7 linked regions of the Homo sapiens genome follow. The protein of the gene in region 7 purifies or fractionates together with the protein of the main gene of each other region. This does not show direct contact. Each region holds a gene or a part of one and is shown on either strand. Other genes may lie near its edges.

What was found.
Region 1: the proteins of IDS (region 7) and FBXO21 purify together in Homo sapiens (affinity purification with mass spectrometry; 3 studies listed by BioGRID and IntAct, with this or other methods). This does not show direct contact.
Region 2: the proteins of IDS (region 7) and WDR47 purify together in Homo sapiens (affinity purification with mass spectrometry; 2 studies listed by BioGRID and IntAct, with this or other methods). This does not show direct contact.
Region 3: the proteins of IDS (region 7) and TCTN1 purify together in Homo sapiens (affinity purification with mass spectrometry; 3 studies listed by BioGRID and IntAct, with this or other methods). This does not show direct contact.
Region 4: the proteins of IDS (region 7) and GALNT18 purify together in Homo sapiens (affinity purification with mass spectrometry; 3 studies listed by BioGRID and IntAct, with this or other methods). This does not show direct contact.
Region 5: the proteins of IDS (region 7) and COCH purify together in Homo sapiens (affinity purification with mass spectrometry; 3 studies listed by BioGRID and IntAct, with this or other methods). This does not show direct contact.
Region 6: the proteins of IDS (region 7) and PPT2 purify together in Homo sapiens (affinity purification with mass spectrometry; 3 studies listed by BioGRID and IntAct, with this or other methods). This does not show direct contact.

What each region holds. Positions count from the first base shown.
Region 1 is NC_000012.12:117,141,491-117,145,470, reverse strand, and holds the end of FBXO21 (F-box only protein 21), read left to right. Parts: 3' UTR 1-3,480; downstream 3,481-3,980. UniProt on the Homo sapiens protein: Substrate-recognition component of the SCF (SKP1-CUL1-F-box protein)-type E3 ubiquitin ligase complex.
Region 2 is NC_000001.11:108,993,603-108,997,102, forward strand, and holds part of WDR47 (WD repeat-containing protein 47), read right to left. Parts: intron 2,236-3,500; coding exon 1,978-2,235; intron 1-1,977.
Region 3 is NC_000012.12:110,624,129-110,627,628, reverse strand, and holds part of TCTN1 (tectonic-1 isoform 1 precursor), read right to left. Parts: intron 1,268-3,500; coding exon 1,137-1,267; intron 1-1,136. UniProt on the Homo sapiens protein: Component of the tectonic-like complex, a complex localized at the transition zone of primary cilia and acting as a barrier that prevents diffusion of transmembrane proteins between the cilia and plasma membranes.
Region 4 is NC_000011.10:11,444,006-11,447,505, reverse strand, and holds part of GALNT18 (polypeptide N-acetylgalactosaminyltransferase 18), read left to right. Parts: intron 1-3,500. UniProt on the Homo sapiens protein: Catalyzes the initial reaction in O-linked oligosaccharide biosynthesis, the transfer of an N-acetyl-D-galactosamine (GalNAc) residue from UDP-GalNAc to a serine or threonine residue on the protein receptor.
Region 5 is NC_000014.9:30,881,059-30,884,558, reverse strand, and holds part of COCH (cochlin isoform b precursor), read right to left. Parts: intron 50-3,500; exon of another isoform or gene 7-49; coding exon 1-6. UniProt on the Homo sapiens protein: Plays a role in the control of cell shape and motility in the trabecular meshwork.
Region 6 is NC_000006.12:32,152,765-32,156,940, reverse strand, and holds the start of PPT2 (lysosomal thioesterase PPT2 isoform a precursor), read right to left. Parts: upstream 2,801-4,176; 5' UTR 2,537-2,800; intron 2,355-2,536; coding exon of another isoform or gene 2,347-2,354; coding exon 2,164-2,346; intron 1,912-2,163; coding exon 1,758-1,911; intron 1,254-1,757; coding exon 1,158-1,253; intron 1,071-1,157; coding exon 963-1,070; intron 1-962. UniProt on the Homo sapiens protein: Catalyzes the cleavage of thioester bonds from S-palmitoyl-CoA or S-palmitoyl-N-acetylcysteamine (unbranched structures) but does not have activity against palmitoylcysteine or palmitoylated proteins, branched structures or bulky head groups.
Region 7 is NC_000023.11:149,476,488-149,478,897, reverse strand, and holds the end of IDS (iduronate 2-sulfatase isoform a preproprotein), read left to right. Parts: 3' UTR 1-1,910; downstream 1,911-2,410. UniProt on the Homo sapiens protein: Lysosomal enzyme involved in the degradation pathway of dermatan sulfate and heparan sulfate.

The sequences.
Region 1 (3,980 bases), on a different chromosome or scaffold from region 7:
TCTTTTTTTTTTAAATTTAAATGGGAATATAACACAGTTTTCCCTTCCATATTCCTCTCTTGAGTTTATGCACATCTCTATAAATCATTAGTTTTCTATTTTATTACATAAAATTCTTTTAGAAAATGCAAATAGTGAACTTTGTGAATGGATTTTTCCATACTCATCTACAATTCCTCCATTTTAAATGACTACTTTTATTTTTTAATTTAAAAAATCTACTTCAGTATCATGAGTAGGTCTTACATCAGTGATGGGTTCTTTTTGTAGTGAGACATACAAATCTGATGTTAATGTTTGCTCTTAGAAGTCATACTCCATGGTCTTCAAAGACCAAAAAATGAGGTTTTGCTTTTGTAATCAGGAAAAAAAAAAATTAATGAACCTTAAAAAAAAAAAAAAAGGTTTTGAAGGGAAAAAAAGTGGTTTCACACCTCTTGTTATTCCTTAGAGTCACTTCAAGGCCTGTTTGAATGTGGCAGGTTAGAAAGAGAGAGAATGTCTTTCATTTGAAGAGTGTTGGACTTGTGTGAAAGGAGATGTGCGTGTTGGAATCTGCTTTTCCAAGCCGCCAGGGTCCTGACGGCAGCAGGACGAAGCCTGTTGTGGCGTCTTCTGGGAAAGCCTGACCGTGTGTTCGGACGGCACTGGCTCCTTTCCGAAGTTCTCAGTAACTGAGCCCAGAGTAACTGCACGCCTTTGTGCAGCTCTGGAGCTCCACCAACTCTCGGCCTGCCAGTTCTCAAGCGAGCTAATCTTGTCATTAATCGATAGAAGCTAACTTCCGAAGTTAGGACCTAGTTACTTTGCTCTCAACATTTAAAATAATGCAGTTGCTCTAGTGAATGGGGCGTTAGGGGCCTGTCTCTGCACCTGTCTGTCCATCTGCATGCAGTATTCTCACCCATGTTGAATGCCTGCTGCTTGTTTACCCTTTGGAAACCCTGGGGTGACCAAGGTTTGGAAAGCCACCTGAGACCACTTCATAGCAAGGGAAGGCTTTAAGCAGTTACTAGAAAGAGATGGGGATTTGGCCCCTGGCTCCTCCAGCCTGAATGAGCTATTTAATCCACTGTCCATGTTCCTCATCAGTCAAATCCAAAGTCAAAGGATTTGAACCTGCATCTGGAAACGTAACCACTCACAGCACCTGGCCCGCCAAGGTTGGGAGGATTGTACACTACTTTCATTTAAAGGGGAAAGTTTGATAATACGGAATTAATTAATATGAATGAGATGCATTAATAAGAACCTGAGCATGCTGAGAGTTGCAATTGTTGGTTTTCTGGTTTGATTGATTTCCTTTTTTCTTAGACACATCAAAGTCAAGAAAGATGGTTTTACCTTTACTGACCCAGCTGTACATATGTATCTAGACTGTTTTTAAATGTCTTTCTTCATGAATGCTTCATGGGGCTCCAGGAAGCCTGTATCACCTGTGTAAGTTGGTATTTGGGCACTTTATATTTTTCTAAAAACGTGTTTTGGATCCTGTACTCTAATAAATCATAAGTTTCTTTTTAAAAATTTTCCAAAACTTTTCTCCATTTTAAAAAGCCCTGTTATAAACGTTGAACTTTCACAATGTTAAAATGTTAAATATTTGGATATAGCAACTTCTTTTCTCTTCAAATGAATGCCAAGATTTTTTTGTACAATGATTAATAAATGGAACTTATCCAGAGAAACCACGCAAATGGCCTGCCCAATTTCGTTTGAGGACAGAAAGCCCAGCCATGACTTGAGTAGAATGTCTCTCACCTCTCTTCGGATCTAAATATGAAAAGTATGTTCTGCTGAATTTTTCTGAGCATTGGTGAGCGGACAGCCTACCTGTAAACCATGACCTCCTTGCCAAACGTTAATTTTATCAGCTCACTAGTAACCTTTGAGAATTATCTGGTTGTCATGCAAAGATTGCACTTTCTGAATTATGTTAAAACACATGTTGTAAAATGAGAACTGCTCATGCTTTGAAAGAAAACCAGGTTCTTCGTGCGTTCTGTTGCCGTTGATTTGAATGGCTGTGCTGTATACGATGTGTCCAGAATGTCTTCAGAGCACTGTTTCCGTGTGATGTTACTACCTACTATGTGGGAGGAAAAAAGGTTATAGGTTAAACAAAGTCAATTGACTCTATGGTGGTGTTTCTCAATACCTGTGACGCACAGTACTGTGCGTCGTGACTTTCTAAGAGAAGTGTGCAGCGGGTGTGTCATCTTGATATATGAAACCCTGGAATTTCCCTCCCCTACACGCACGCACCGTCCCCGGGGGTCCGGTGTTTGCAGACATGCTTTGAAAAGCTGTCTCAGTGAGACATCAGTTATGTCCAAAATGAGTTTACCTTAGAATCAGACCGGTTTTGCCAGGCGTCATGTTTGCAAACATTATCCACCTAATCAGATTTTGAAAGGCCGGCTTTCATGTCGCCTGCCTGAGACTCATAACAGATCCCCATTATAAGCGCGTTTACACAGCAAAATGATTTTATTGAGAAAACCAGCATTAAGTACTGTTGCCGGCTCAGTTTTCCATTGCATACTATCTACTTAAAGTCCCGTTCTCATTTGTAAGTGTTCCGATCTTTCCCCACGGAGAAAACTGAGCAGAGCTGCCGTGTCGCAGGCTTTCTGCTGCTGATGTCGCATCTCTTTGCTTTCCCCTCCTTAGTCCATACTCCAAGTAAGTGAACTCAGACTACCAGCAACTTTTTAACTGAAAAGTATCTGTCCATGATGATCAAGATGCAGCTCTTCGTGTTTTTATTTTGTCTTTTTTTTTTTTTTTTTTTTTTGGAGGGAAGGAGAGACATCAACTGGACAAAATGCAAAATTTGGATGTGGGACAATTGCTTTTTGGAGACGTGAATAGCTGTACTGTACGTATTATTTTGTGTGGCATGCTAACTTTGAGCCGGGCACTGGCCTAATAAAGTCTTTGTAATCCTCCCAGCAATCCTATAAAGCAGACGCAGATAGTAAAGATTTTAGGCTTTGCAGGCCACGTACAGACTGTCACATGTTCTCTGTTTTTAAAAGTGTCAACAACATTCTTAGCTCAAAAACAGGCTGCAGGTGGGATGGTGCCCACAGGCCATAGTTGGCTGACCCCGGCTAGGGTGTAGGCACTTAGCATTCCACTGTATAAAGGGGAAACCCAGGTCATACTGCGTGTGCGTGGGTGGGAAGCCGGATGTGGAATACAGGTGGTCCCTGAGTCTCCAGGAACCACTGAGCTCCAGCTGTTCACACCCACACTCTGCGGCGCAAGCAACTACCTCGCCACGGTTTAGCCTTGGTCTAGCAGCGACTTTAACCTTGAATGTTGCATTTCTGAAAAATTTAGAATCTTGAAAGTAAAGGACGTCCCTCCGGTGAATAAAATTAGGCGCAATTATAGAATACATGTATTATGGCCACGTAGCAATGACTGTATTAGGGCTCTGCTAGTTCTGTAATAAATAGACCCGAAAAGCAACAATGGCTCAAACACCATAGAACGTTTTTGCTTCCATAATATTGGGCAGGGGAATGGGCTGGCAGGGCAGCCCTTATGCAGGCAGGCATCAGAGCAACCTGAGCCGTCCATCTCCATCCCGCCTGAAGTAGCGGGGAGCATGGAGGGCTGAGACCATCTGGGAGCTTCCATGAGCCAGGTGTGGAAGTGGCACCCCTTATGTCCACTCATTTTGCACGGAGGTGGGAAACGTCCAGTTGTGTTCTAGGAAAGGAGACAGAACACAGTGTGGGTGGAAGCTCTGGTCCACTGCACGGGCCACTCCAGTGTGCTCCTCCACCGCAGGAGACAGCCACGGACAGCTAAGCCAGGCTGTCCGTGGGGACGGACACATTTCTGCAGTCTCCGGCTCAGTCGCCCCTGCCTAAGTAGCACATAGAGGCAGTGGAGTTCCCTTCAGATGGCACTGTCTGTGTACACTCACGGTCTCCACCGCAGATGGCTGCAGCAGCGGGGAGCAG
Region 2 (3,500 bases), on a different chromosome or scaffold from region 7:
ATCCCAGCAGAACAGTGAGGAAAGTCCCAGGATTCTATCTAGACCTACATAAAGTGATCAAAAAGCAGTAAATATAAAGTGAAGCAGGAGTGATCCTGGAGGGACATCTCCCAAGGGGAAAAAATGGAATAGAGAAATTTCTGACACTTTTTACAATAATGAGAGAAGTTTTATGATTTTATAATTCTGTCAAAGCACTTACAGATAGTTTAGTGATAAATATTAAGAAAACTCATCATGTACAGACACATGAACACCAACTTGAGGCAATTACTGTCTCCAGGAAAAACAAGAAGCTATATGAAAAAGAAATATAATCATATGGCACTACATGACCCAGTTGTAAATAACATTTACAAGGTCATAGTAATGTGATACTGATTTAAACAAAATCACACTGATACTGATTTAAACAAAAATTGATATATACTGAAAATAAGGGATAGACAAAGTGAGGGTGCTATGTATGAGGAGTATGGTAGAGAATCAACAGATAGCAAAAACAGTAATAGAGGCCGGGTGCGGTGGCTCATGCCTGTAACTCCAGCACTTTGGGAGGCCGAGGTGAGCGAATCATGAGGTCAGGAGTTCGAGACCAGCCTGGCCAACATGGTGAAACCCTGTCTCTACCAAAAATACAAAACATTAGCTGGACATGGTGGCACATGCCAGTAATCCCAGCTACTCAGGAGGCTGAGGCAGGAGAATTGTTTGAACCTGGGAGGCAGAGGTTGCAGTGAGCTGAGATTACACCACTGCATTCCAGCCCGGGCAACAAGAGCAAAACTCCATCTCAAAAAAACAAAACAAAACAGTAATAGAAGTATGTTTTTCAGAAATGTGGAAATATATAGCAAAAGGCTGGGTGTGGTGGTTCACTCCTGTAATCCCAGGACTTTGGGAGGCTGAGGTAGGAGGATCACTTAAGCCCAGGAATTTGAGACCAGCCTAGGCAACATAGTGAGATCCCATCTTAAAAAAAAATTGTATGTATATATATCAAGAGAAACAGCCAAATGGGTTGAAAATGGCAGCCAATAAGAAATAAAACCATGGACAAAGATGGGTTTTATTTTAAGCCTTGAAGTACTATTTGTCTTTTGAAACCATGTATGTATATTACATGGACAAAAACAAAAATTAAATTTTAAAATCTGAATTCTTGTTTTGAAAGTACTCAAAACAACTATTATGAAAGCTGTAATAAAAAAGCAAATAGTAAAAAAATAAAAATTCAGAAAAGAATCAAAAATTGAATTTATGCTCTGAAATAAAACTAGGTTTTTGACACTAATTATTTATAAAGTGAATTCCTATAAGCATCCAAGTGCCAAAAGCAAGTTATACATTTTTGTACTTAATCTCAGCCAAAAAGCTGGGAATCTCATCTTATACATTTTTTAATGAACCACCCTGAAAAGTGTTTTATGCTAAGAATATAGAAAATGCTCCTTAACTATTCCCATTGCATAAATTAACACTTGTATACTAATGATAGCAAGATAAAAATTTTCCCTGAATAGTGAAAATGTAAATATGCAGTCTTCCACTGCTGTAATTGCCAAAGCAGCCAACACTGCAGCTGTAATCATTCCACCAGATTGTAAAACATCTTTCTATGCCCTGAAAGTCTGAATTTTAAGATTATTTGTTCAAAGATGCCAACTGAAGAAAAAAGAAAATCAAGATTTAGAGATCCTAAAACTGTAGGTTCTTTGAGTAGGATGGCTTATAAAAAATATAATTGCCTTGGTGGTAGTCAGGAAGCAAAAAGAAAAATAGAAGGAAAATGGAAACTATAAAGAGACTTAGAAGTTGGTAGAAGAGAATATAGACAAATGAAGGCAGATTAGGAAAAAAAATTGGTAGGCAGTAAGCTCTAAAAACTTTTATTTATAAGGCTCCAAAGACAAGTTCAACCTTCTAACCATTAGTAGTAAGTTAATATTTCCAAGTTTTACAAAGTCAAGCACTTACATTTGGCTTCCACAAGGTGATTCCTCCAGAAAAGGTATGTGATTTGTTGATCCAGGATTACGAGGAGTGCTTGTATGAATATTTGAAGCATCATGTGTTAATCTCTGACTAGAGTCTTGGGGTGGTGTAGTAAAACTAGTCACAGAAGAACCATTAGATCCATTGCCTTTGCTCCCATTACATTGCTGGTTGAGTGCTGATACCTCATTACCAAGGCCATCCATTCCAATATTTAATTCACCAAGCTTTTGAATGGACCTATAAAATTAAACAATGTAATCATTTTAAAATAAAAACTTAATTGCATTCCTAATATATACAAGGTTAAAAGTGTGAAAAGGTAAAAATATGCACATATAATATATAATCTATGGCAAATTTAGTGTTAAAAATTACCACCATCAACTTAAGACATAACCAAGATACTGAAAGAAGATCCACATTTTCCCATAGTATAACACTACAGAAGATAGGCATAATGGGCATTATAGACTTTTCTTTTTTTGAGTCAGGGTCTCGCTCTGTTGCCCAGGCTGAAGTGCAGTGGCATGATCGTGGCTCACTGCAGCCCTGGGCTCAAGCAATCCTTCCACCTCCCACACATACCTGGGACAACAGGTGCATACCATCATGACCAGCTAACTTTTTAAATTTTTTGTAGAGACAGAGTCTCCCTATATGGCCTAGATTGGTCCTTAACTCCTGGGTTCAAGCTATCCTCCTGCCTTCCGCCCAAAGTGCTGGGATTATAGGCATGAACCACTGTGCCCAGCCAGTATCACAGACTTTTTAAAAGCAGCTTTTACAATAAAAACAGAAAAAAAATTCTTTTTCTTCCCCAATATAACTTTGGTTTAATTTTCCATTTAAAACTTAACTTTCAGAAAGAGTCAATAACAATATCACCACTACCAAAATTGCTCATCAACAAAACAAGCCATTTTCATTCCATCTGTCTTGAGTAGTATCAAGTAGGAAATGGATGACTTGAGCAAGCCATGATGAGTAAAAAGTCAAATGGCATCCCTAATACTCCACATGTACTTATTCACTCATTAATTCATTCTACAAATACTATTGGCCAGTCTCTGATCTAGACAATAGGGAGATAAAACAGGGAGCAAAACAAGTTAGCCTCAGGGCCTTGCCCTCAACAAATAGTCTCTCCATTGCTGTAGCCTGACTCCATATTGAGATCAGGGCTACAAAGGGCACAAACAGGAAGCTACATTGCTCTTTTAAGATTTAGACTCATGGGCCAGGTGCGGTGACTCATACCTGTAATCCCAGCACTTTGGGAGGCTGAGGTGGGCGGATCACTTGAGGTCAGGTTCGAGACCAGCCTGGCCAACATGGTGAAACCCCATCTCTACTAAAAATACAAGAATTAGCCAAGCATGGTGGCAGATGCCTGTAATCCCAGCTACTTGGGAGGCTGAAGCAGGAGAATCACTTGAACCTGGGAAGCGGAGGCTGCAGTGAGCCAAGATCACACCACTGCACTCCAGCCTGGGCGACAGAGC
Region 3 (3,500 bases), on a different chromosome or scaffold from region 7:
AAAAACACATGTATATATAGAAACCTAGATTCCTATGTATGTCTGCATATTATAAACACTTTTAAGATAAGTATACGGTTTCGAAAGACAACTACACAATCATAATTACTTTTAAAGAAAATGTGCATGCCCACAGGTCTATAAAGTTACTTCCTATTACCTGTGAAATGGTCTCTAAAGATATACACTATACATATAGCAAAACAGAATAATTGCTTTAAATCTAACTGAGGGCTGGACAAGGCAGCTCACACCTGTAATCTCGGCATTTTGAGAGGCCGAGGCAGGAGGATCATTTAAGGTCAGGAGTTTGAGACCAGCCTCGCCAACATGGTGAAACCCTGTCTCTACTAAAAATAAAAAATTAGCTGGGTGTGGTGGCAGGTACCTGTAATCTCAGCTACTCGGGAGGCTGAGGCAGGAGAATCACTTGAACCCGGGAGGCAGAGGTTGCAGTGAGCTGAGAACGTGCCACTGCTTTCCAACCTGGGCAACAGAGTGAGACTCTGCCTCAAAAAAAAAAAAAAAAAGAAAGAAAGAAAAAATAGTAATAATAGGGCTGGGCACAGTGGCTCACACCTGTAATCCCAGCACGTTGGGAGGCCAAGGCAGGTGGATCACCTGAGGTCGGGAGTTCAAGACCAGCCTGACCAACATGGAGAAACCCCGTCTCTACTAAAAATACAAAACTGGCCAGGCATGGTGGCCCATGCCTGTAATCCCAGCTACTTGGGAGGCTGAGGCAGGAGACTCACTTGAACCCAAGAGGCAGAGGATTTGTGATGAGCCGAGATTGAGCCGTTGCACTCCAGCCTGGGCAACAAGAGCGAAACTCCGTCTCAAAAAAAAAAAAAAAAAAAAAAAACCACGCACACACAAAAATTATCCAGGCATGGTGGCAGGCACCTGTAATCCCAGCTACTCAGTAGGCTGAGGCAGGAGAATCACTTGAATCTGGGAGGTGGAGGTTTCAGTGAGCCGAGATTGCGCCACTGCACGCCAGCCTGGGTGACAGAGCAAGACTCTGTCTCAAAAAAACCATAATCATAATTATAAAATAAATCTGACACATTTTTCCATAACTTTGAGAAAAATTTTCCAGAGCTTCACAAAATATATCAATGTCAAATACTTACAGTTTGTAATATGAATGCAGAAAATAGATGGATTAATCTGGTCAACAAGTTCAAATACTCTTTGAGGTGGGTTTGCTGTAAAATTCAATGAATAGATGACTGCTTTTTGACTACAAAACTGGCTGTCGCCCCTGAAAATTAAAAAAATAATAATACAAAGTTACAAGACATAAGCACACAATCTTAGCAAAATTATTTTAAAACTGTCAGATGCTTGTACTGTACTATGTTAACAGTTACGTGGAGGATATTTATGAAAGCATGACGTCCCAGCTACTTGGGAGGCTGAGGCGGGAGAATGGCATGAACCCAGGAGGCAGAGCTGGCAGTGAGCCAAGATCGCGCCACTGCACTCTAGCCTGGGCAACAGAGCAAGACTCTGTCTCACAAAAAAAAAAAGAAAGAAAGAAAGAAAAAAGAAAGCATATTAGAATTGAATCCGGCTGGGCACGGTGGCTCACACCTGTAATCCCAGCACTTTGGGAGGCCGAGGTAGGCGGATCACAAGGTCAGGAGATGGGGACCAGCCTGGCCAAGATGGTAAAACCCCATCTCCACTAAAAATACAAAAATTAGCTGGGCGTGGTGGTGGGTGCCTGTAATCCCAGCTACTAGGGAGGCTGAGGCACGAACATCGCTTGAACCCAAGAGGCAGAGGTTGCAGTGACCCGAGATCGCGCCACTGCACTCAAGCCTGGTGACAGAGTGAGACTCCATCTCAAAAAAAAAAAAAAAATTGAATCCTTTTTTTTGAGATGTAGCCTCACTCTCCCAGGCTGGAGTGCAGTGGCACGATCTCGGGTCACTGCAACCTCTGCCTCTTGGGTTCAGGTGATTCTCCTGCCTCAGCCTCCCGAGTAGCTGGGACTACAGGTGTGCACTGCCATGCCTGGCTAATTTTTGTATTTTTATTAGAGACAGGGTTTCACCATGTTGGCCAGGCTGGTCTCAAACTCCTTACCTCAGATGATCCACCTGCCTCAGCCTCCCAAAGTGCTGGGCATGAGTCACCACAGCTGGCTGAATCCATTTTTATTTAGTTTATTCTGTGTTGAAATATTTTGCATTTGGGCCAGTCACAGTAGCATGCACCTGTATTACCAACTACTCAGGAGGTTAAGATGCAAGGCTCACTTGAGGTTAGGAGTTCGAGGCCAGTCTGGCAACATAGTGAGATCCTCATCTCTTTTTAAAAAAGAAAAAGCTTGGCATTTAAAACTTTTTCCTCTAACAGAAAAAAACAAAATTGAGACAAGTAGAATAACCTTTAAGGAAATCTTGTCAAGAACGTAGATCAGGGTATAATTTTTATGTCAGTGAACTTTACAAACTCTGATAGCATCAATTAGATAAAATTTTGCAGACCTTCAGATTGTTTAAAAGTACCCAGAATAGATCCAAATTCCTTGTCTTTAGAATAAAGCTGTCTTCAAAGGACTGTGAGAGTAAGAAAATGTGGAGTCATCTGGAAGGTTTAATGCTTAGAAGTTATGGTACAGGGCCAGGCACAGTGGCTCATGCCTCTAATCCCAGCACTTTGGGAGGCCGAGGCGGGTGGATCACCTGAGATCAGTCGTCTGGAAGGTTTAGTGCTTACAAGTTATGGTACAGGACCAGGCACAGTGGATCATGCCTGTAATCCCAGCACTTTGGGAGGCCGAGGTGAGCGGATCACCTCAGGTCAGGCATTCAAGACCAGCCTGGCCAACATGGCGAAACCCTGTCTCTACTAAAAATACAAAAATAAATTAGCCAGGCGTGGTGGCATGTGCCTGTAGTTCCAGCTGCTGGGGAGACTGAGGCAGGAGTATTGCTTGAACCTGGGAGGTTGCAGTGAGCCAAGATCGTGCCACTGCACTCCAGCCTGGGCGACAGAGTGAGACTCTCTCTCCCAAAAAAAAAAAAAAAAGAAGTTATGAGTTAAGTCTTCAACCAATCCCAGATTTGACAAATCCCAATCAATTTGCTATAGATACAGATACAGGCCAAGCACCATGGCTCATGCCTGTAATCCCAGCATTTTGGGAGGCTGAGGAGGATCACTTGAGGCCAGGAGTTCAAGACCAGCCTGGGCAACACAGACCCCTATCTCTACAAAAAACAAAGAAAAAATTAGTCCGGCATGCTGGCAGATGCCTGTAGTACTAACTACTTGGGAGGCTGAGGTAGGAGGACTGCTTGAGCCCAGGAGCAAGGTTACAGTGAGCTATGATCGTGTCACTGCACTCCAGCCTGGGTGACAGAGCAAGACCTATCTCAAAAAAACATAGAGGCTGGGCACAGTGGCTCACGCCTACAATGCCAGTACTTTGGGAGGCCATGGCAGGAGGATCACTTGAAGCCAGGATTTCAAGACCAGCCTGG
Region 4 (3,500 bases), on a different chromosome or scaffold from region 7:
GACAAAGCAGTGAACAAAACATACAGAAACCCCTGCTTCACAGAGCTGGCATTCTAGTTGGGTGGAGGCAGAGAGTAAACAAAACAAAGAAGTCAAATATGCAGTATGTTAGGTGGTGGTGAGTGCTATGGAGAAATATAAAGTCGGAGAGAGAGAGAGACACCTGGGACAAGAGTGGGGAGCTGCAATTTTTCCTGCGTGGTCAGAGAAGACCTCAGTAAGAGGTAACATTTGAGCAAAGACCTGGAGGAGAAGAGGAAGCAAGCCATGAGGGTACTGTTGGAGGATGGGGGGAGTACCTTTCAGGCAGAGGAAGTGGCAAGTGCAAAGGCCCTGAGGCAGAAGCACGCATGGCACGTCATGTTTGAGGAAGAGGAAGGAGGCCCCTGTGGCTGGAATGGGGTGTGTAAGGGGGCAGTAGTTGGAGATGAGGCCAGAGGAGCAACAGGAAGCAGATCATTAGGGCCGTGGTTCTCAACCTTGCTGCCCATTCTACACATCACGGGAGCCTTAAAAAACAATCCTGATGCCAAGGCCACACCCCAGACCAATTAGATAAGTGTTTCTGGGGCAGCACTCAGCTTCAGTATTGTTTAGAGCTCCTGGGTGATTCCGATGTGCAGTCAAGGTGAATCCCAGGAGAAGGGCTTCATAGGCTTTTGCAAGGAGTGCAGCATTTACTCTGTGAGACAGAGATCCATGGGAAGGGCTTGAGCAGATTAGCAATATGCTAATTGTCACTTGCAAAGGTGCCTGTGGCTGCTATACTGAGAACAGACCGAGGGGGCAAGGCTGGGAGCATGGAGACCAATTAAGAGGCTTCCAGGTGAGAGGCAGTGGTGGCCTGGACCATGATGGCAGCAGGGGAGGTGCTGAGATGGGGTTGGATTCTGGAAATATCCTGAAAGTGACCTCAGCTAAGTGTCATGGGGCCTCAGTCCACAGAGGAGCTGCAGAGACCACTCCTGGGTCTGGAGAGGAGCTGGTCTGGTGGGGGCAGCACACAGGGGCTCTGGAGAAGAGATCATCAGGAATAGGGCCCTCTAGTTCCTGCAGGGGACTTGGCCATGACCTTGGCCAGAAGAAGAGCCATGGACTTTTCAGTCAATCTGTTACAAAACACAGGCACAGCTCAATCCATATTTGTTCAAAATTAAAGGGAAAATGGAAAGGAAGCCAAGGAAAGGGTGGATTTTACAGATTATAACCTGGTTATAACAACAACTGGGATTCCCATAGTGCTGGACGTGCCGATAATGCCCTTCCCATTTGGACCACATTAACAGGGCAGTGAAGGTACGCCAGGCAATGGTAGATTCTTCCGGTTTGAGTTGAGGAAACTGAAGAGCGGAAAGAGTGTTGTCTGAGGTCACACAGTCAGATAAGCAACTGAGCTGAGCCTTGAGCCCATGTCTCAGATGCCGGATCGTGGCTTTGACATCGGCCCACCATTGTTTATTTGACTGTGCACAATGCTGCACAATGAGAGCGCATGTGGGAGCCCTTGATCTTTGACTGAGAGAAGCGCCCCACCCACTCTCACCTGTGGGAGGAATTTGCCTGAGAGAGGGAGGAACTCTGAAGGACTTTAGGTGGGCAGAATTCTACAGTTTTCTTCTGAGCTGCTGGAGAGGAGCAATCGTCCTTACAGAGAGACCTTCCCTCTGCACAGAACTTTACAGTCTGTGGAGCTTCCACACCTCCCCCGTGGCACCAAGCAACTTCTGTCAGCCCCTTTTTCCAGACAGAAAAACAGAATCTCTGATAAAAGGCAGAGCAGAGCCTCCTCACTCCTCAGGGAGGGCTCTGTGAAAGTGGCTTTAACAGTGGAGGGTTCTCTTTGCACATGTACTTGGAAGGCTCCGTCTAGCTCTATTTCAGCTCACGTGCCAGACGCACGCCCAAGATTGGAGAGCTGTTGGTGGACCACACAAAACAAGTATGTGCTTAGGTAAAACAGTGCCTCCTTTTGTCTGTTAATTTCCATAAAAACATCCCTGCCTTGTAACAAGGCCATTGCTTGGCTCATCCTTCTTAATTCATTTTGGAAACATCTTTTCAAAATTTTACTCTCATCCTATTTCAAACGACACTGGCAAACATTTATATAGGATAAGCCATGTTTTCAGGCATATGTTTGTCACTTAATTTATAAGAACTCCTTGAGTCTTCACAGTAAAACCTTCTGAGGTAGGTCCTATGATTAGCCTTCATCTTACAGAAGAGGAAACTGAGGCATGGGGAGATGATATCTCCTGCCCAAGGTCACTAGTGGCAGAGCTGGGGCAGGTGGTCTGGCAATAGAATTTGTGCATGTAACCACTGTCCTCACACTGCCTTGAGGCATCTATTTGTGTCACTCTAATGGGAGTGGCAGGCCCGCTTTAACAATATAGCACTGAGCATTTGCTGATCAGTTTTGGAGGGAGGAAGGTCGGCGTCTACATGTTGGAAAAAACTGTTTTAGTGCACATGAAACCAAGGCTTGTTGCCAAGGCTCAGAATGATGCCTGGGCTCTGGCTAATGTTGGGATTTGGACTGAGAGGATGTGGGTCAGCATGTGGAGAGGAAGCCCACAGTCACTGCAGTCTCTGGAAGATTCATGCTGTGTGGCTCTTGCCATAGCCGGAGCCCCTGTGCCTCTTGTGAATTCCAGTTTGCTCTTCGGGACTTCTGTTCCTGCTGCTTGTATTCCACACTTTGCTCTTGGTATTCTTGGCTCTTTTCTTCCAAATTCTAACCCTGATGTTATTCTTGGCTTCATTCCTAGATCAGAAAGTGAGTGTTCAGAATCCTGCCCACCCTCCTTTCTCTCACCTCTAGCTAGTCACTTACTTTGTCTCCTTTTTTTCTTGGTACTGAAAGATGTAATCTGACCCAGCTTGTCATGTGGCTGAGATAGGACCATGCTGTGCCAGTGCCTTATAGACAAGACAGGACACAACTAGAAGGAAAAACATCGGTCCAGCCAGTTGCTAGGCCTCGTTTATTTTTTTATCCAGCCAACATTTACTGAGCACTCATGATGTGCCCGGCACCCAACAAAGCGTCGGACGGATATCTCCTGGAGTTTACACTGAGATGGGAACCCAGACAGAGGTTGGTGGGAGGGCGAGTCTGCTGACCATTTCCCAGGCTCCGTGGCGGGGAGGACTTGTCCTCGCAGGCTTTTAGTAAGGCAGTGGCCTGGATGTGATGGTCACAGAAGCACTGTCCCTCTGGTGCCTCTGTGGCAGGGAGGCAGGGCCTGGAGGGTGGCATCTGCAAGGCACCTCTCTGTGGCAGGGAGGCGGGGCCTGGAGGGTGGCATCTGCAAGGCACCTCTCTGTGGCAGGGAGGCGGGGCCTGGAGGGTGGCATCTGCAAGGCACCTCCCTGTGCCGGCTTCCCTGGGGAGAGTTGTTTTAACAGTCCAGACTCTAGAGAGACATCTGGGATCTTTGAACTTTGGGGGGTCCTGGCTTCATGGATAGGCAGAATAATGGCCTCCCAAAGATGTC
Region 5 (3,500 bases), on a different chromosome or scaffold from region 7:
TGTTCACTGAGTGGAAGAAAGAAAATGTTATTCAGGGAGAATTAAAAAGGTAAAATAAGCAACATTACATGCCTTAAAAAACAGTTTTAAAACCAGACAACACACAAGTTTCTTTCTTAATTCCATAGTACATAGTCAACTGAGGCATTGCATCCTTACTTGAATTATTGGAGATATTTCAGAGGTGTAACAAATAATTGCCATATTGAGGATTTATTATATTCTGGGTAATAAGCCAAAAGCATAACACATGTAAAACCTCATTTCATCATAGCTCTATAAGGTTGGAATTATCCCAATTATGTAAATGAAGAAACTGAGTCTCAGAGCATTTAGGGAGTTTGCCTGATGAAACACAGCTGCATTTTAAGTTCAAGTTGTCTGGCTGCAAAGTCCATGCCTAAACTATACGGAGAACTTGAAATCGGGCTTGGCTCAGAGCCTCGGGTTTAACAGAAGTCCGCAGAGTTGGGCACCAGGTAGCTAAACTAAATGAGGAAGTGGCTGGGTATGAGACTAGGGTCTGTTCCAGTGTGGGACCCCAGAGGCTCTAAGTAGTGTGGATCTATTAACTCAGAGCTCTCTGTTCAGGAGAAACAATTTCATTGATGTGACCGTCAACATTTTTTTAAAGGGACAAAGGTGAAATGAATTATAAAGTTACAATATTGAGTTTTTCTTATAATGACAATGACATTTGTGCACCTTAAAATTATGTGTATTGTAAGAGTTTTGAGATCTCATTTCCTATATTTAATATTAAAGGAATTTCAGCTCACTTTTATATAACTACTCTGTGTTCAGCAGAGACCGTTTTGAGTATAAACAACCACAGCACAATCTGTTGTGTTTAGTTTCTAGATGAGTCAGTATTTCCTAGTGCAAAATTTAAGATCTTAGCATTATCAGTAGCCATTTTATTCAAGATTTTTTGAGGGAGAAGTAGAACACTGACTGTATTTCTGCATACATACCTGATGGAATATTGGGTCATAAAATCAGATTTCATGGGTTGAAAACCTTTTCACTTGTGGTCACTTTTCAACTATCCAGATTATGACTTATGAAATTAGTCTCATTTTTGTATCCTTGATATATTCTGTTCTTTGACTTACATACATATAAACTTGACATGGTTTACCTATTCTAATGGTCTTTCTAAAACAGAAAAACTACAAAACTTTGTATGAGTCTACAAGGTAATGAAGAATTCATCTTCAAAAAGAATTGGGTCAAAGTAGTCAGAAAAAAGTACAAGACAAAAAGTACTGCAGGGGAATTTGCCTCATGGGATGTTAAAATGTGCAATAAAACTGTGATAATCAAAGCAGCGTAGAAAAAAATATGTAAGGATTAGCATATGAATCAAAGAAATAGACTTGCTCAAACTCAGGTATAAATGTGATACCATAAGTCAATGAAACAAGGAACACATTTTTTTTAAGGGTGAGAGACAAATGGTTAAATTATGTTAAAACAGTTAAATTTTCTTCTCATGCCAAAAAAATTCTATCTAATCTAAGAGCAGAGCCACTTGTAAAAAATAACAGAAATGAAATGGAAATTAATATTTGTAATAGCACTGTTTATACAACCTTACACACTGCTGATAGTAGTTTAAACTACTTCACCTTTCTAGGAAGCAATTTCGCTATTTATTTGTTTTTTTAGAGATGGGGTCTTTCTCTGTTGTCCAGGCTGGAGTAGAGTGGTGCCATCATAGCTCACTGCAGCTTTGAACTCCTGGGCTTGAGAGATCCTCACACCTCAGCCTCCTGAGCAGCTGGCACTACAGGCATGAGCCACTGTGCATGGCTCAATTTCACTATTTATATCAGAGGCTTTAAGTCAGAACCTCACTTTTAGAAATCTAACCTGATGAAATAATCAGAGATGGGCACAAAGATGATATAAGGATGTTCATCACAGTGTAGTGTGTAATGTAGTGAAGAAATAATAAGAATGACTAATCATGCAGCGGAATATTATGAAATATTTTTGATGAATATTTGTGATATGAGAAAATGCTAAAAATACTAAAGGATGAAAAAAACAGGATGCAGGGCATTTTTAATAGTCTGAGTTTTTAAAAAATAATACAGTCAAATATTTCCTTAAAATACTGAAGGGGCCAGGCGTGGTAGCTCACACCTGTAATCCTAGCACTTTGGGAGTCCGAGGCAGGTGGATCACCTGAGGTCAGGAGCTCGAGACCAGGCTGGCCAACATGGTGAAACCTTGTCTCTACTAAAAATACAAAAATTAGCCAGGCGTAGTAGTGCACACCTGTGATCCCAGCTACTCAGGAGGCTGAGGCAGGAGAATCACTTAAATCCAGGAGGCAGAGGTTGTAGTGAACAAAGATCGTGCCATTGCATTCCAGCCTCGGTGACAGAGCAAAACTCCGTCTCAAAAAAAAAAAAAAAAAAAAAAAAAAACCATTTTATAGTGATTATCTCTAGGGCATATGATTTAGAGCATTTCTTTTTTTGTGCTCTATGTATTTTCAAGCTTTCTATAATGAGCATATTCTATTTCTAAAAGCAATTAATAAATAAATATTTATTTATTTATTTATTTTTATTTTTATTTTTTGAAACAGAGTCTTGCTCTGTTGCCCAGGCTGGAGTGCAGTGGCACGATCTTGGCTCACTGCAAGCTCCACCTCCTGGGTTCACGCCATTCTCCTGCCTCAGCCTCCCGAGTAGCTGGGACTACAGGCGCCTGCCACCACGCCCGGCTAATTTTTTTTTTTTGTATTTTTAGTAGAGACGGGGTTTCCCCGTGTTAGCCAGGATGGTCTCAATCTCCTGACCCCGTGATCCATCCGCCTCGGCCTCCCAAAGTGCTGGGATTACAGGCGTGAGCCACCGCACCTGGCCAGCAATTAATAAATATTTTTAAATGAATAAAATAGAAAGGTCGTGCTTCAGATCACCAACCAAGAGAATATGGAAAGAGCTAAAAAGAATAACAGAATAGGGAGGTGGAATAGACATATCACTGCTTCTTCCTTCAGAAGAGAGAAATTAGGAATTGAGCAGAGTAGATAAGCAGAGGTGACTTGTGTAAGCAACAGGACTCTCCAGTCTACCTTCTGGTTCTTATATAGATAGCACACAGTTTTCTAAATTCTTTTATTCCAAAAAGGAGGCACTCAGATCTACTCAGTCTGCCCAGGCAGTCTTAGATCCTGAACTTACAGTTTGGGAACCCAGTGTGTCCATAACTCAAATGTTTATACTGAACTGACATGTACCCACTAAAAGAACTGATCATTTGTCATCATTCAAGACTCATTCAAATCTCCTCTCATTTGATTTTTTTCTTTTTTTTTTTTTTTTTTGAGACATAGTCTCACTGTTGCCCAGGCTGGAGTGCAGTGGTGCAATCTCGGCTCATTGTAACCTCTGCCTCCCGAGTCCAAGTGATTCTCCTGCCTCAGCCTCCCAAGTAGCTAGGATTACAGGTGCATGCCACCACATCTGGCTAATTTTTGT
Region 6 (4,176 bases), on a different chromosome or scaffold from region 7:
CCAAGATATTGGGATTACAGGTGTGAGCCACCACACCTGGCAATAGCAAGTACTTCTATCTAGTATCTACTATATGAGCCAGGTACTATTCAAAGTACATTGCATTCATTTATTTATTTAATCCTTACAACCACCTGGTGAAGTACATGCTATAATATTTTACAGATAAGGAAAACTGAGTAACAGAATGGTTAAGTAACTTGCCCAAAGGCACCCAATAGGGTCAAGATTCAAACCCAAGTATTCTGGCCCCATGGTCTGGTCTAGAGGTTGGCAAACTGTGACCAAAGGACCAAATCCAGCCTGCTACTTGTTTTTGTAAATGAAGTTTTACTGGAACACAGGCACATTCATTCACATATGGTACATGGCTGCTTTCACACTACAACAGCAGAATTGAGGAGTTGTGAAACAGACTATATGTCCTACAAAGTCAAAAATATTTACTCTCTGGCCCTTTATAGACAAGGTTTGCTGACTCCCACATCAGACTAAACCTTCTAAGGCAATAAGGTGACACACTTAAAACATTCTGGGCCAGGTGCAATGGTTCACACCTGTAATCCCAGCACTTTGGGAGGCCGAGGCGAGTGGATCACCTGAGGTCAGGAGTTCGAGACCAGCCTGGCCAACATGGCGAAACTCCATCTCTACTTAAAATACAAAACTTAGCCGGGCATGATGGCGCCTGCCTGTAATCCCAGCTACTAGGGGGACTGAGGCAGGAGGATCACTTGAACCTGGGAGGCGGAGGTTGCAGTGAGCCAAGATGGTGCACTGCACTCCAGCCTGGGCAACAGAACAAGACTCCGTCTCAAAAAAAAAAAAAATTCTGAACAGAGCCTGTTCAAATAACTCAATAAATGTAAGTTATCTTTATTGTCATCACTGCTATTGGTTGTAGCAGAGGTGGAAGCAACTGACCTGATCCATGGAAGCCCCAGTTCAGCATCCCCACTCACCATGCCAGTAGTTGCAGATGGAGAATTCCTGGCCCCAGGGGCTATAGCAGATCCGATAGAGGTTAGACCGCATGGAGGTGGGGAACAGCCACTTCAAGTAGTCCGTGTCTGGCAAGCGAATGGCAATGCTAAGTGACCATAAACCTCTGTTCCCCCAAAACTCAGGGCATTCTATGGAGTCTAGTGCCCACTCACCTCCATACTGTCCCATCTGTGGAGAGGAGAGGGAGATGAAAGAATCCACGTTGTGATCATCCATGACAGAAAGCAGAGCCCGGCACACAAGGCCCCCTGTAAGCAGAACACCACATTGGGCAGGCACTTAAGGACAGCAAAGCCAGCAGCACCCCCCACCCCCACCACACACACACACACACACACACACACACACACAGAGACACACACAGACACACACTGTACACAAAGGAGACTGAGGCTTACAGAAGGCAGGCACACCCTGTGCCAAAAGGTCACACATCATATAAGTGACTGAGCCCGAATTAGATGCTGGGCCTCCTGCCTCTAGTTCTAGGATGTTTTTACCTGCCCCATTAGCCCTTATGTCCAAGAACCATGGGTAACAGGAAGCAAAAGGGCAGCAGTGTAGGGAGCCTCCCTCCCATTCAAGACAGAGATGAGACCCAGGTGCTGAGGGAAGTCAGAAAGGAAGGGCTCAGGTACCAGGGTTGTGCCTGGAGCAATGTGGTTCAGAAAAAGGGACGCTAGGAAGTGTCCCTCAGATAAGGATCAAGCCTCAGATAGGGCTTAGGAGTTAGGGGCAGGGGAGTCGCCTACCCTGCGAGTAGCAGATGAGATGCACCCCTTGAGGGGCCTTTGCCATGATGGGGACCACAGCCTCTCGGAACCCTTGCACCTGTTCCCACAGGGGTCGCAAGCTCTCTCTCCCATCGAAGAGATCGAGCACTGTCACCACAGTCCCGGGGTGTGTCTGTGGGAAGGGGGCAATGCAGCCACCGGGGATAGGCTAAGAAGCTCCCACACGCCACCCCCTGGCCCGCGTCCACAGGTCTATTGTACCCTGCTAGAACCAGGGATCCCGTCCCCCAACTCTCCCCCACGCCAGCACCAGCTCCCTGAGGAACTGGGCAGGCCCAGAGGGGTGGCTTTCAGTTCCCCGCTCTCCCTCCCCTGCCACAGTAGACGCCTCTAACGCCCTGCACCCAGGTGTCCCCTGCCAGACCTCATTGATGTATTCCAGCAGGTGGCGGAAGCTGTACGAGCTGTCGAAGAGCCCATGCACCACGATGACCGGCTTGTAGGACGCGCGGTGGGGCGCGGGGGCTGCAAGCAGCAGCAGCGGCAGGAAAGGCAACAGAAGCAGGACCCACGCCGCGGGGAGCCGCTGCCCGCAGAGCCCCAGCATGCTCCCGCCTGAGAAAGGGGTGATAAGGGCATGTGAGGGAGATGGCAACACCCTCCTCCCTCGGAACAGACGCCCGGCAATCAAGCCACCTCCTCTCGCTCCCACACCAGGTCCGTGTCACAAAATAGCCTACTTTTAACTTACTCCAGCCCTCTCCCTACAAACACACCCCCCCACCACGTTGACGCACCAACGCGCACCCGAAGTCCCGCCTCCAACTCAGCGTTCGGGGGACTTGTTCTCTAGGTCCAGGATCTTCCTAATGCATCGCCTCAGCCATGAACAACGCGGAGTTCTTTAATACCCGTGAGCAGCAGCCCAGGCCCCTTGAAGAGTGCAGACTCCCACCTGGCCTGGGTCCGTAGGCCTCGCTCCACCCGCTGTTTACTTATCCCAAGTCTGGAACCCACGGTGGCGGGGGGAAGGGTGAGGAAAGAGAGCGCAGGGGAATGACGGATGGGAGGGGGAAGGGCGGGCTGCTTGGGGTCGCGCAAATCCGTCACGTCCGGGGCTTTCTCTGGCAACCGCGCGAGCGTTCCCCGCAACACAGACCCAGGACAGGAGGGGCAATGGAATATTCCATTGCGCCCTAGGTGCTGGGGAGGAAACAGGCGGAGCGATCCATTTAGGCCAGTGGGGAGAGGAAAAAGCAGCAAACATATTCTGGGAATGGAAAGAAGGCCTCTCCAGGCTTCGTTGCCCCCAGCGACCCAAAAGTCCGATTTCCCCGCCTTGATTCTCCCCACTTCCCAATACAGGCGTCTGGCTCCGCAGCAGAACACGAAGTTTGCATTCCCCAAGGGGCGGCCAGGGGGCGGACCAGGGAAAGGTAGTCCTCTGCATTTTGCCGTGTGCTGGGTGAGTGGCAGGGTGGCCTGGAGGGCTGATGCCAGCCCGGGCGTGCCCCTCAACACCCACCCCACCCCACCCTCCAGTCCGCCCCAGGTCAGCGACTTACAACTCTTCATTCTGAAGTGCGTGTAGTGCCCTTGTCTCCAGAGACGCAGAGAGTCCTCGAGGCCCCTTGAGCTAAGTGCAGCCTGGCCCAGTTTCTCCTGCCCTACTCTACTCCCCTCCCTATAAGCGACCCACCCTCAAGGGGCGGAGGGCGCGTAGGGATGCGCTGACTCATGCCCGCGTAATTTCGACCAGTCTTTCAACCTGAACGACCCCCAGAATCTGGCTGTCTGAGTTATCTGTGGGTGGCTCCCTACCGAAACCCCCAGGCGCCCCACCTCTCCGCCTGTGACCCCTAACCGACACCCTAGTGCCTCAGGGCTTTTACTTGCTAGGGCTTTTACTTAGCATTTAAAGACGTTTCTCTAGAGATAAGGATTTCTCAGCATGTCTGAGCCCCTCTCTCTGTTTACAAGGTCATTGCTTGGTCTAAATTTGTCTCAATCAAAACATTTTTGCGCTCAGAATGGTGTAGAGTGACGATGAGGTGGCGGTAAGGGGTTGAGCGCTCACGCGAACGCCTAAGTGACCAGAACGACTGGTGTGAAGCCGTGATCTGACTCTGTGGAGCCTGGGACTGGTTTCAGCGAGAGCCTCTGTACTGCTCTGTAGTCTCTGCTAGGACATGGACGAAAAGGGACGCAGCCGGGAGAGCGACTGCCCCAGGTGGGGGCTGGGGGGACGTAAGGGAAGAATAATAATTATCTGGCTGTGTTTTTGTTTAAAAAAAAAAAAAAACTGGTGTAAATCTCCATAGACTTCCTATCCTCGCTCCCTTCACCCACCCACGCGCTCCCAAGATGCAATAAGCAAATAAAAAGACTAATAACGCTGTACTGCAGGTCGACTCAGGAGCTGGAGATGCGTCTTGGT
Region 7 (2,410 bases):
TCACCTTTTAAAATAATCAAACATATTTATCTTTTCCTGTGTGATAGGTTTTTTTCTGTATCTTTTCCTGTTAAACACACAGACCCCTCCCCAATCTGGACATTGAATAAATATTCATTTTCCTTTGCATTGTTTGGGGTTTGGTTTTATGCTTACTGTGTCTCTCCACCCCATTATCAGAGTAATATATGCTCATTGCATAAAATCTGGAACATGTGAAAACTGGAGATGAAAAGAAGCCCAGCATTTGAGACATACCCACTGCTGACATTTGTATATTTCCTTTCATTCTTTTACCTGCCTAAAGACATATATGCAGATATGGACATATTTAGCTTTACATACATGCAGACTACCACATATAATCTATATCTTGTTTTTTTGATCTAACACAATGTTAGCTTGGTTTTTTATGTCATTGACAGTTCTTGATTAACAGCTGTAATGGCTGCACAGCCCTGCTTCATTAATTTTTTTTTTTGGACTGAAATGTATGTACCACGTTCCGCTTATCCATTCATCCACCAGTGACCACTTGGGTCATTTCTACCTTTTGGCCATTGCAATAATGTTGCTGTCAACAAGGATGTACAAATATCTGTTCGAGTCCCTGCTCTTAATTGTTTTGGGTATACACCCAACCTACATTAATCTTTAATCACTTAAGATGTTGGGGTTTGTGCTGGGAGGTAACCAAGTGACTCTGGAGCAGCCTCACCCTAGCTACAGAGGGAAACTGACTCTTCCCTCTCTGCCCAATCTTTTGCCGCCTGTCAGGTTCCCAAGCTGTCCATACCTTACTGTGTGAAGCGCTTTGGGTATAAACTCCCAAATAGAGGCTCAGCCCCTTTTCCTTTCCCAAGTCCATCCTGCAGGTTATAGCTCTTCAGAGGAATCTCTTGAATTCTGGCCTGGGATCTGGGATTAAAGTAGAACCCAGGGTGTCCCTTGGGGCCTTAGGCATAGCCCGTTGTGGTGGAACCTGCCATCAGCCCCACTGCACTCAGTGGTCCCCTGGTACTTCAGGACAGTTTCTCTCTTCTGCACATGAGAACTTCAAGCAGAGAGGACTGTCAGTTGTTGCCTTCACATCACCAATCGTTTGGCCATAATGGCCAAGAGCCCTCACTGCTCTTGGGTCTTGCCTTTCCACATGTTACTGAAAGCTCCCGTTGGTGTCCCTGTCCACTAACTCACCTGATGGGACAGATGCCACTTTCCTCTGAGTGTCTGATAAAACACAGTCTGTTGTGGGGAGCCCACGCTCAAGGGTTTTCTTTGGGATCAGAGTTTCCCGGCTATTACTCCATGCCCTGCCTGACATCACTGTCATGTATGGTGCTAATCACCAAAGGATGCCCTTGTTTGATTCTGGATTCTAGGTGATAGTCCTTATCCTCTGATGGGGGAAGAGTTTGGGTGGGAGAGAACAAACCGACAAGTTGGTTCCAGATGAGGTGGCTGGGAGCCAACCCTCAGGTACTTGGCTCTGAGTAATGTGACGGCCCAGGCAAGAGGGCTCCCACTGCCAATGAGGAACAAAAGCTCAAGGTCTAGTAGTGTATTCAGCACATGCTAGGAAACAAGAGTTGGGACGTGGACAAGGAGAGGAGCAAAGGCCAGGGGTTAACTGCTTTTGGTTTTTCCTCTATAAAAGTCAGGGACTATGATTTATATGGGTGAGAAGGTTTGGAGTAGGACTGAAGCTGCCATTTACAAACCCCTTGCCCTAATTTATTGTAGTTTTGGGTGTGTTTCTGAAAGAACCTTTTGCAGGTGATTTTTATTCAGTACTCATTAACTTACAGCTTTTATGAATTCACATCTTCTACACTATTGAAAAACATAAGTTTGTATTGTGTTAAGTGCAGCATGAGTTATTATATGAATAAATCACATTAAATTTGCCATTATCGTGTGTGCAATTCTTGCTGCTGGTTTGGGACCGCTTGGTGCTGCCTTAAAATAAAAGGAGCCATTTAACAGAGCTTGATACCGTGGTACAGGTGTGCCCCCTTAAAGTATCCAACCTGTTCCTCCCCATGTGAGGGCCAAGGCAGCTGTGGTGTGGGTTTTATTAGGGAGTTGAATTCTTGAGGGTAGATGGTGAGTTGCACTTGACCATAGACACACTTTTCTGGGCAGTGGTATGTCTCTCAGCTTGCCCTGCAGTTACAGTACAGAGACTCCCCAGAAAGAAAGAGGAAGTGGGCTGACCAATTAGGTAGGCTTAGGGAAACCATATATGCAATAGCAACAAGGTAAAGGAAGCAAATTAGTGGGTTCTTGGGGTTCCAACTGGAAATTTGCCTGTTTAGTGGTCTTGGCTTAGTGTCTTCATGAGCCTTAGTTTATCTTTTTCTACCTATCCTACTGGTTTCGACTAAAAATTCGGAAGGCAGTGCTTCTT